Linked DNA regions of Homo sapiens. The protein of the gene in region 2 interacts with the protein of the main gene of each other region in a pairwise test. Each region holds a gene or a part of one and is shown on either strand. Other genes may lie near its edges.

Region 1 (3,611 bases), on a different chromosome or scaffold from region 2:
TTATCTCCTAGGTCAGCTTCTTTTTTGTTTTTTTTATTTTTATTTTCCTCCTCCCCCACCTCCCTAGGTCAAGCTTCTTAAAGAACTTGCAGACATGCCCAGTGGACTGTCTTCAGGACCTGTTTATTCATCTATGTCCCTAACATGTGTAGGGTCCTGGGCAGGGAAGACTAAGACATGGCCTCTGGTCTTCCAGGACCAAAAGTGTAGGTGACACATCAGTGGTCTCTGGGAAATTATAAAGAATGAGGAAGAAGCATGCGGAATGAAGACACAGACTCTTCCTGTTTGCAGAAGAAGGATGCTTGATGCTGTGAACATATGCGTTGTTGATTTTGATGTTTGACGCCAGACAGCACACTTGAATGAATTGTGGAGATGATATGGTGCGGCCTCTCACAAAACGAAGAGGAAACCAGCATGGATTTGTTGTGACATGGGACCAAAGACTCGGAATATTTTTAGATGACTTTGTCATTTATTTAAAAGAAAAATCTGCTGTAGGAAGAATTAAGGGGTACATACCACAGTCAGAGGCTAGGTGCTTCCGTCACCTCTGTCCTTAAACATTGGTTTCAGGAGTCACCCAAGGTGCACCCCCTCCATAAATTAAGAATTGATGGAGAAGGAAGGCCCTTGACCTTGAAAGTAAACAAACCTGTGGCATGCATCTGAAAAGCGACTGAAGTACATAGTTTTAGAACAGATCAGTCAACAGTTATAAAGGTAAAAAACATGCCTTTGAAAGAGAATTCAAATAGCCACTTCTCCTCCCTTAAGAAGTAAGTAAAGTATATAAAGTAAGTAAAGTATATAAATAAAGGGAAATTCAGATGTACATTTGGAAAGACAAGAGGTTCCACTCTTAGGAAGTAAGTAAAGTATATAAATAAAGGGAGATTCAGATGTACATTTGGAAAGACAAGAGGTTCCAAAAAAGTGTTTAACTTTTAGTGACATTAAGTTATTCTTTTCACGAGAGTGACATTAAATGTTTATGTTTATGGGAATCTCCCTCTGCAGATTCACTAAGAAGATGTCTGTCAGATTTCATTGTTGTTATTTGTTTGTTTGCATTTTGGTCAGGAAAGCTATACTGGTAGATGGGAAGACGCTTCAGTGATAAAATAGCCTGCCGAGACTCAAAGAGTGTTTGGCAGGATATTGTGGCAATAAAGTATTTTGATATCAAAACAGATGGCGACATTGCCCTGCCTGCTCTCATTCCCTGCTGCCCTGGCCTCTCCTTTCTCGTGCAGATGAACACCTGGCAGCCACTGCCTCTTGGAACAGCAGAAGGCACGAGACAGGAAAGTCAAGGCCAAGCATGATGGCTCATGTCTGTAATCCCAGCTCTTTGGGGGGCCCAGGTGGGAGGATCACTTGAGGAGTCCAGGAGTTCAAGACCAGCCTGGGCAACAAAGCAAGACTCCATCTCTACAAAAACAAAACAAAACAAAACAAAAAAAATGAGCCAGGTGCAGTGGTGTGTGCCTGTTGTCCCAGCTACTCTGGAGGCTAAGGTGGGAGGATTGCTGGAACCTGGATGGTGGAGGTTGCAGTGAGCTGTGATCATGTAATACACTCTAACCTGAGTGACAGAGTGAGACCCTGTCTCCAAACAAAAAAAAAAAAAAAAAAAAGAGAGACAGAGAAATCAAATTCCTGACTTTTGATTTCAAAAGCTGGTATCCAGCAATAGAGAAAAGATTTGGAAGAACCTATCTTCCCAGGCATATGGTTTCTCAGCCTTTCTCTTCTTCCTTCACCAAGTAATTTTTTTTTTTTACTAGGGGAAAGGGCAGGAGAATTTGGAGGGCAGCTTAGATGCTGGTGGGCTTTTCAGCTGCTCTGTGCCACGTCACTCCAATGACAAATTAAAAATATTCTAGATTGACTTCGTGAATATATTGGGAGAGCCACAAATGAAGACACTCTGTCCTAAATAGCCTGGAGATGAAGCAGAAGGAATGTTCGTATGAGGTGACCAGGCAGCATGCCCGAGCATGGCTCAAATAGCAGAATCTTTTCCTGGCAGCCAGGGCTGTGCAGGCATGGCTGAGGAAGCCCAATTGGCCCGAGGAGGCCTTGTGGTCAAGACCAGGGAGGCACAAACCATAGTCTGTGTGGACTGACCACAGGAGACAAGATATCATTTGTACCAATCACAAAGCCCTCCTGGTTGTTGTGGTCACTCCGAACCTCTCAAAACTTAGAAGTGATCCCTGAAATCATTGGGTGGGGTGGGAGTGTGGCAGTATCTACAGAGCTTTGTTTTGCTACTGGATAGAATGTGGAGTAAAGATAGAGATTTCAGTAACGTTACAAACAAATGAAGAGGTCTGTATTCGGTGCTTACTGATGCTGGGCACTGGGATTAGCGCTCACCCCAGCACTGTTGTCCACACAACGGTGACGTGTACCTGGGGGGTGCTATGCTTTGGTGGATTCCCAGCAGCTCAGATGGTAGCAGATGGTGTGGTATGAACCTTGAGCACGTTCCAAGGAGACCCCAGGACTCTGTCCCCAGCCCTGCCCAGGTGAACATTTGTATCAGAGGTGGCTGTCCAAACAGATGAGCTCCTTCGCGCAAACCTCAGAAGAGCAGCTACACAGAAGGGGTGGAGTGGTAAGGCCTTTGCGTGGCAGAGTTGTGACCAAAAGCTCACCTGAGATGAGGACAATCTAACATGTGAGACAAAGGGGATATTGCAACATGCTGAACGTAGATCACACACGCTGACTTGGGAGGTACGAGAGAGGAGTTTGAGAGGAACACGTGTAAAAAGACTTGGAGATTCGTATGAAAATAAGCTTAATAAGAGTTGACAGTCATGAAACTGCCAGAGGAAAAAAAAAAGAGAAACTACAAGAAACCAACAAGGAAGGTGCGAGCTCTGTGGGGTGTCTTGTCAATGTGTCTTATGGAAGCGGAGGCCTGGAAGGCCAGGAGCACTCATGAATAATCATAGTTTTATCATTATGGATGTGGAATATCCTCATGCTTTATCCTGACTCCACACCATCAGGACTCTGTTACATGAAGCTTCGAATTATCTTAAGAGACTTAGGAGTCCAGAGTTGTGCTGATTTTAGATGAGGCTGACCCGGGGTCTTTAAGGATCCCACCAGAACCTGCTTCATCTCTCTCTACCTTTCAGACCCTCTTTGTTTCTGCTCTACTGGTGGATAGGCCTTGATATCCCCTTGGCTGAGTCCCCTCCCAAATCTCACCTTGAATTGTAATAATCCCCACATGTCAAGGGTGGGACCAGGTGGAGATAATTGAATCATGGGGGGCGGTGTCCCCCATACACTCTCATGGAGTGAATAAGTCTCACAGGATCTAATGGTTTTATAAATGGGAGTTGTCCTCCACACGCTCTCTTGCCTGCCACCATGCAGGCTGTGCCTTTGCTTCTCCTTTGCCTTTTGCCATGATTGTGAGGCTTCCCAGCCATGTGGAACTATCAGTCCATTAAACCTCTTTCCTTTATAAATTACCCAGTCTTGGATGTGTCTCTTTTGGCAGCATGAGAACAGAATAATACAGGCCTGGACAGTGTGATGGACAAATGACTTCACGCCCAGCCTCATCTGATGCTGGTGGG
Region 2 (3,611 bases):
CAAACAGATATTTAGTGAGAGTGACATTGTTTTACATATTTGCAAATCTCTTTAATGTCTGACTTAATAGAGGACAATTGGATTTGCATAGCTGCTTATGCATTCAATCCTGTAATATTACACATCATATAGGCACGGGGAAACTCCACAATACATTTCAAGAGAGTAAGAGTGAAAAATTCAAATAACATCTTAATCTTATGAAAATGGTTTTGACATCCAGGAGTTTGTGGACCTCCCCAAAGGTCTTGGGAGATCCTAAGGGGTCAGTAGACCACTCTTTGTAAACTGCTGGGTTAGGTAATATCAAGTCAATTGTATCTCCTGTTATAATGTTGCCAGTTTTTCATATCTTGTTCTGAAGCCTTAAAACTGCGTGGTACATACAGTTAATGATTTAGAGCACTAGAGGACTGGTAGAGATGGAGAGTAAGAGTCTAGGTTTCATGTTTTAGCAGTGGCTACTGACCTTTGGCAGATTACTCAACATGTCTTTATGCCCCATTTTTCCTTATCTATAACATAAAGATAATAGACCTATCATAGAGTTATTGTGACATTTAAACTAGTCAAATAATGCAAAACATTTAGAAGAGTGCTGGGCACATGAGAAGTGCTCAGAAAGTGTTTTAATTTAACAAATCTTTATTGAAAATTGCTACAGTGTCAGGTGGTTTGGTAGTGCTTACTTTTAAGGAATTTACGTTTTATCAGGGAAGAAATACACAATACTTAATACAATATAGCATGATGAGTGCCACTGCTTTTAAAAGTAGAGCTAAGGCTGGGCGTGGTGGCTCACGCCTGTAATCCCAGCACTTTGGGAGGCCTAGGTGGGCAGATCACTTGAGGTCTGGAGTTTTTTTGTTTTTTTGTTTTTTTTTCAGACGGAATCTCGCTCAGTCACCGAGGCTGGAGTGCAGTGGCGCAATCTCGGCTCACTGCAAGCTCTGCCTCCCGGGTTCATGCCATTCTCCTGCCTCAGCCTCCGGAGTAGCTGGGACTACAGGCGCCCGCCACCATGCCCGGCTAATTTTTTGTACTTTTAGTAGAGACGGGGTTTCACCGTGTTAGCCAGGATGGTCTCGATCTCCTGACCTCGTGATCTGCCTGCCTCGGCCTCCCAAAGTGCTGGGATTACAGGCATGAGCCACTGTGCCCGGCGAGGTCTGGAGTTGGAGACTAGCCTGGCCAACATGGTGAAACCCTGTCTCTACTAAAATACAAAAAATTAGCTGGGCATGATGGCGTGCATCTGTAATCCCATCTCAGGAGGCTGAGGCAGGAGAGTCACTTGAGCCCGGGAGGCAGAGGTTGCAGTGAGTGGCCATGTTGGCCAGGTTAGTCTTGAACTCCTTGCTGTCTCACCCAGGCTACAGTACAGGGGTGCCATTATAGCTCACTGCAGCCACGAGCTCCTGGGCTCAAGTGATCCTCCCACCTCAGCCTCTGGAGCTGTTGGGATTAGAGGCATTCGCCATTGCGCTCGGCTGATTAAAAAAAATTTTTTTAGCAAACGAGGTCTTGCTGTGTTGCCAGGCTGCTTTCCAACTCCTGGCCTCAAGTGATTCCCGCCTCAAGCTCCTGACTCTGGAATTACAGGCATGCACCACCTCACCTGGCTTGGACTTTTTATTAGACTTCCTGATTTTATTTCATCTGGTCTCTTTCATTTCCTTAAGCTTCTGTTTTAATTCTCATAAGATTTTTCTCAACTTTCTTCCATTTTTTTATTATTTTTTTCTGCTATCATTTTAATTTTTTTTTTCTTTTTTTTGAGCTGGAGTCTTACTCTGTCACCCAGGCTTGAGTGCAGTGGTGCAATCTCAGCTCACCGCAACCTGTGCCTTCCAGGCTCAAGTGATCCTCCCACCTCGGCCTCTTGAGTAGCTGGAACCACAAGCATGCGCCACCAAGGCCGGCTATTTTTTGTATTTTTGGTAGAGATGGCGTTTTGCCATGTTGCCCAGGCTCATCTCGAATTCCTGAGCTCATGCGATCTGCCTGGCCTCGGTCTCCCAGAGTGCTAGGATTACAGGCATGAGCCACCGTGCCAGTTCTTATCATTTTAATTTCAAAGAGTGTTTTTGTTCATCTTCTGAATGTTCCTTTCTGTAGCATCTGTGTTTTTGTTTTTTTGAGACAGAATCTTGCCCTGTCACCCCGGCTGGAGTGCAATGGTGCAATCTTGGCTTACTCCAACCTCTACCTCCCGGGTTCAAACGATTCTCATACCTCAGTCTCCTGAGTAGCTGAGATTACAGGCATCTGCCACCATACCTGGCTAATTTTTGTATTTTTAGTAGAGACGTGATTTCACTGTTTGTCAGACTGGTCTCGAACTCTTGACCTTCAGTGATCTGCCCCCTTGGCCTCCCAAAGTGCTGGGATTACAGGTGGGAGTCACCACACCCAGCCTTCTGTAGCATCTTTTTAATTCCCAATTTTTACCTTTTCTTGTCATTTTGAAGATGTTAATAAGATACATGACTTTTTTCTTCCTGCATATTTAGTTTTTGTAAATTGTTTTTCATCTCTGCTTGTTTTAGTTTCTCTATTTCCTGTTTGATGTGGTCCTCAAAAAACTAGTGTTTCTTGGCTATTTGCTTCTATTTAAGAGGTGAGCACTGAGAGTTGTGTTTTTGTTTTTGTTTTTTATGCTCTTGTGTGGGTTTGTGGGTCTTTACTGCAGAATGATCTTGCTGAGTTCCTTTTTGGGAGTCTCTGATGTTAGGTCTTTAAGTCTTTTTGCTGGTCAGATTCCCTGAAGAAGAATTACTCAGTGCACTGCTGGAGAGAATCTTGGTTGTCAGTGTTCTTGGAGGTGAATGGAGAGAGGGTTTGAAGTCATAACATACAGTAAATGCATTTAGTCTCCTTGCTTTTAATATTGTTTGTACTCTATCCCTCAGCTGTACCTTGTAATCCCTAGTACAGAAACCCCGTTTTTCTTTCTCAGCAGCATTATCTTCTAATTTTCAGCTGTGTTGAACAGAAGAGGGAATAGAAGAGAGTGTTAATCTACTTGTTAAATAGACTTTCATCCCTTCCTTCTGTTTTTAGCTCCATCTTTACCTTTATTTCTAGATGTACTTGGCCCAGACAATTCCTAAGTCAATGGGGGTTCTGTGGTCCAAATCAGCTTTCTCAGCTTTCCCCATTGTCGGTTTAAAATTGATCATTATTGAGTCTTTTAGGTCAATTACTACTTTTCCATTTGCTTTCTACTTTCTAACTTGGATGATTCAGATTTTCCGAGAACCAACACTTAATACTTGCTTAGGGTTGGTTAGTTGGTTTGTTTTTTGAGACGGGGTCTTTCTGTGTTGCCCAGGCTGGAGTGCAGTCCATTCACAGGCATGATTATAGCGTACTACAGCCCGGAACTCCTGGCTCAAGTGATCCTCCTGCCTCAGCCTCCTGAGTAGCTGGGACTATAGAGTCAGGCCAGTGAGCCTGACTCTTTTCTTTTTTAAAAGTACACTTTGGCCGGGGGGCATGGTGACTCACACCTGTAATCCCAGCACTTTGGGACACTAAGGCGGGAGGATTGCTTGAGGCCAGGAGTTGGAGACCAGCCTGGGCAACATAGTGAGACCCTATCTTTACAA

What was found.
Region 1: the proteins of RAB6A (region 2) and TMEM132D interact in a two-hybrid assay, tested with the Homo sapiens proteins (one large-scale study listed by BioGRID).

The regions. Positions count from the first base shown.
Region 1 is NC_000012.12:129,893,996-129,897,606, reverse strand, and holds part of TMEM132D (transmembrane protein 132D precursor), read left to right. Parts: intron 1-3,611. UniProt on the Homo sapiens protein: Regulate neuronals morphology via inhibition of the WAVE regulatory complex (WCR), a complex that controls F-actin cytoskeletal dynamics.
Region 2 is NC_000011.10:73,750,984-73,754,594, reverse strand, and holds part of RAB6A (ras-related protein Rab-6A), read left to right. Parts: intron 1-3,611. UniProt on the Homo sapiens protein: The small GTPases Rab are key regulators of intracellular membrane trafficking, from the formation of transport vesicles to their fusion with membranes.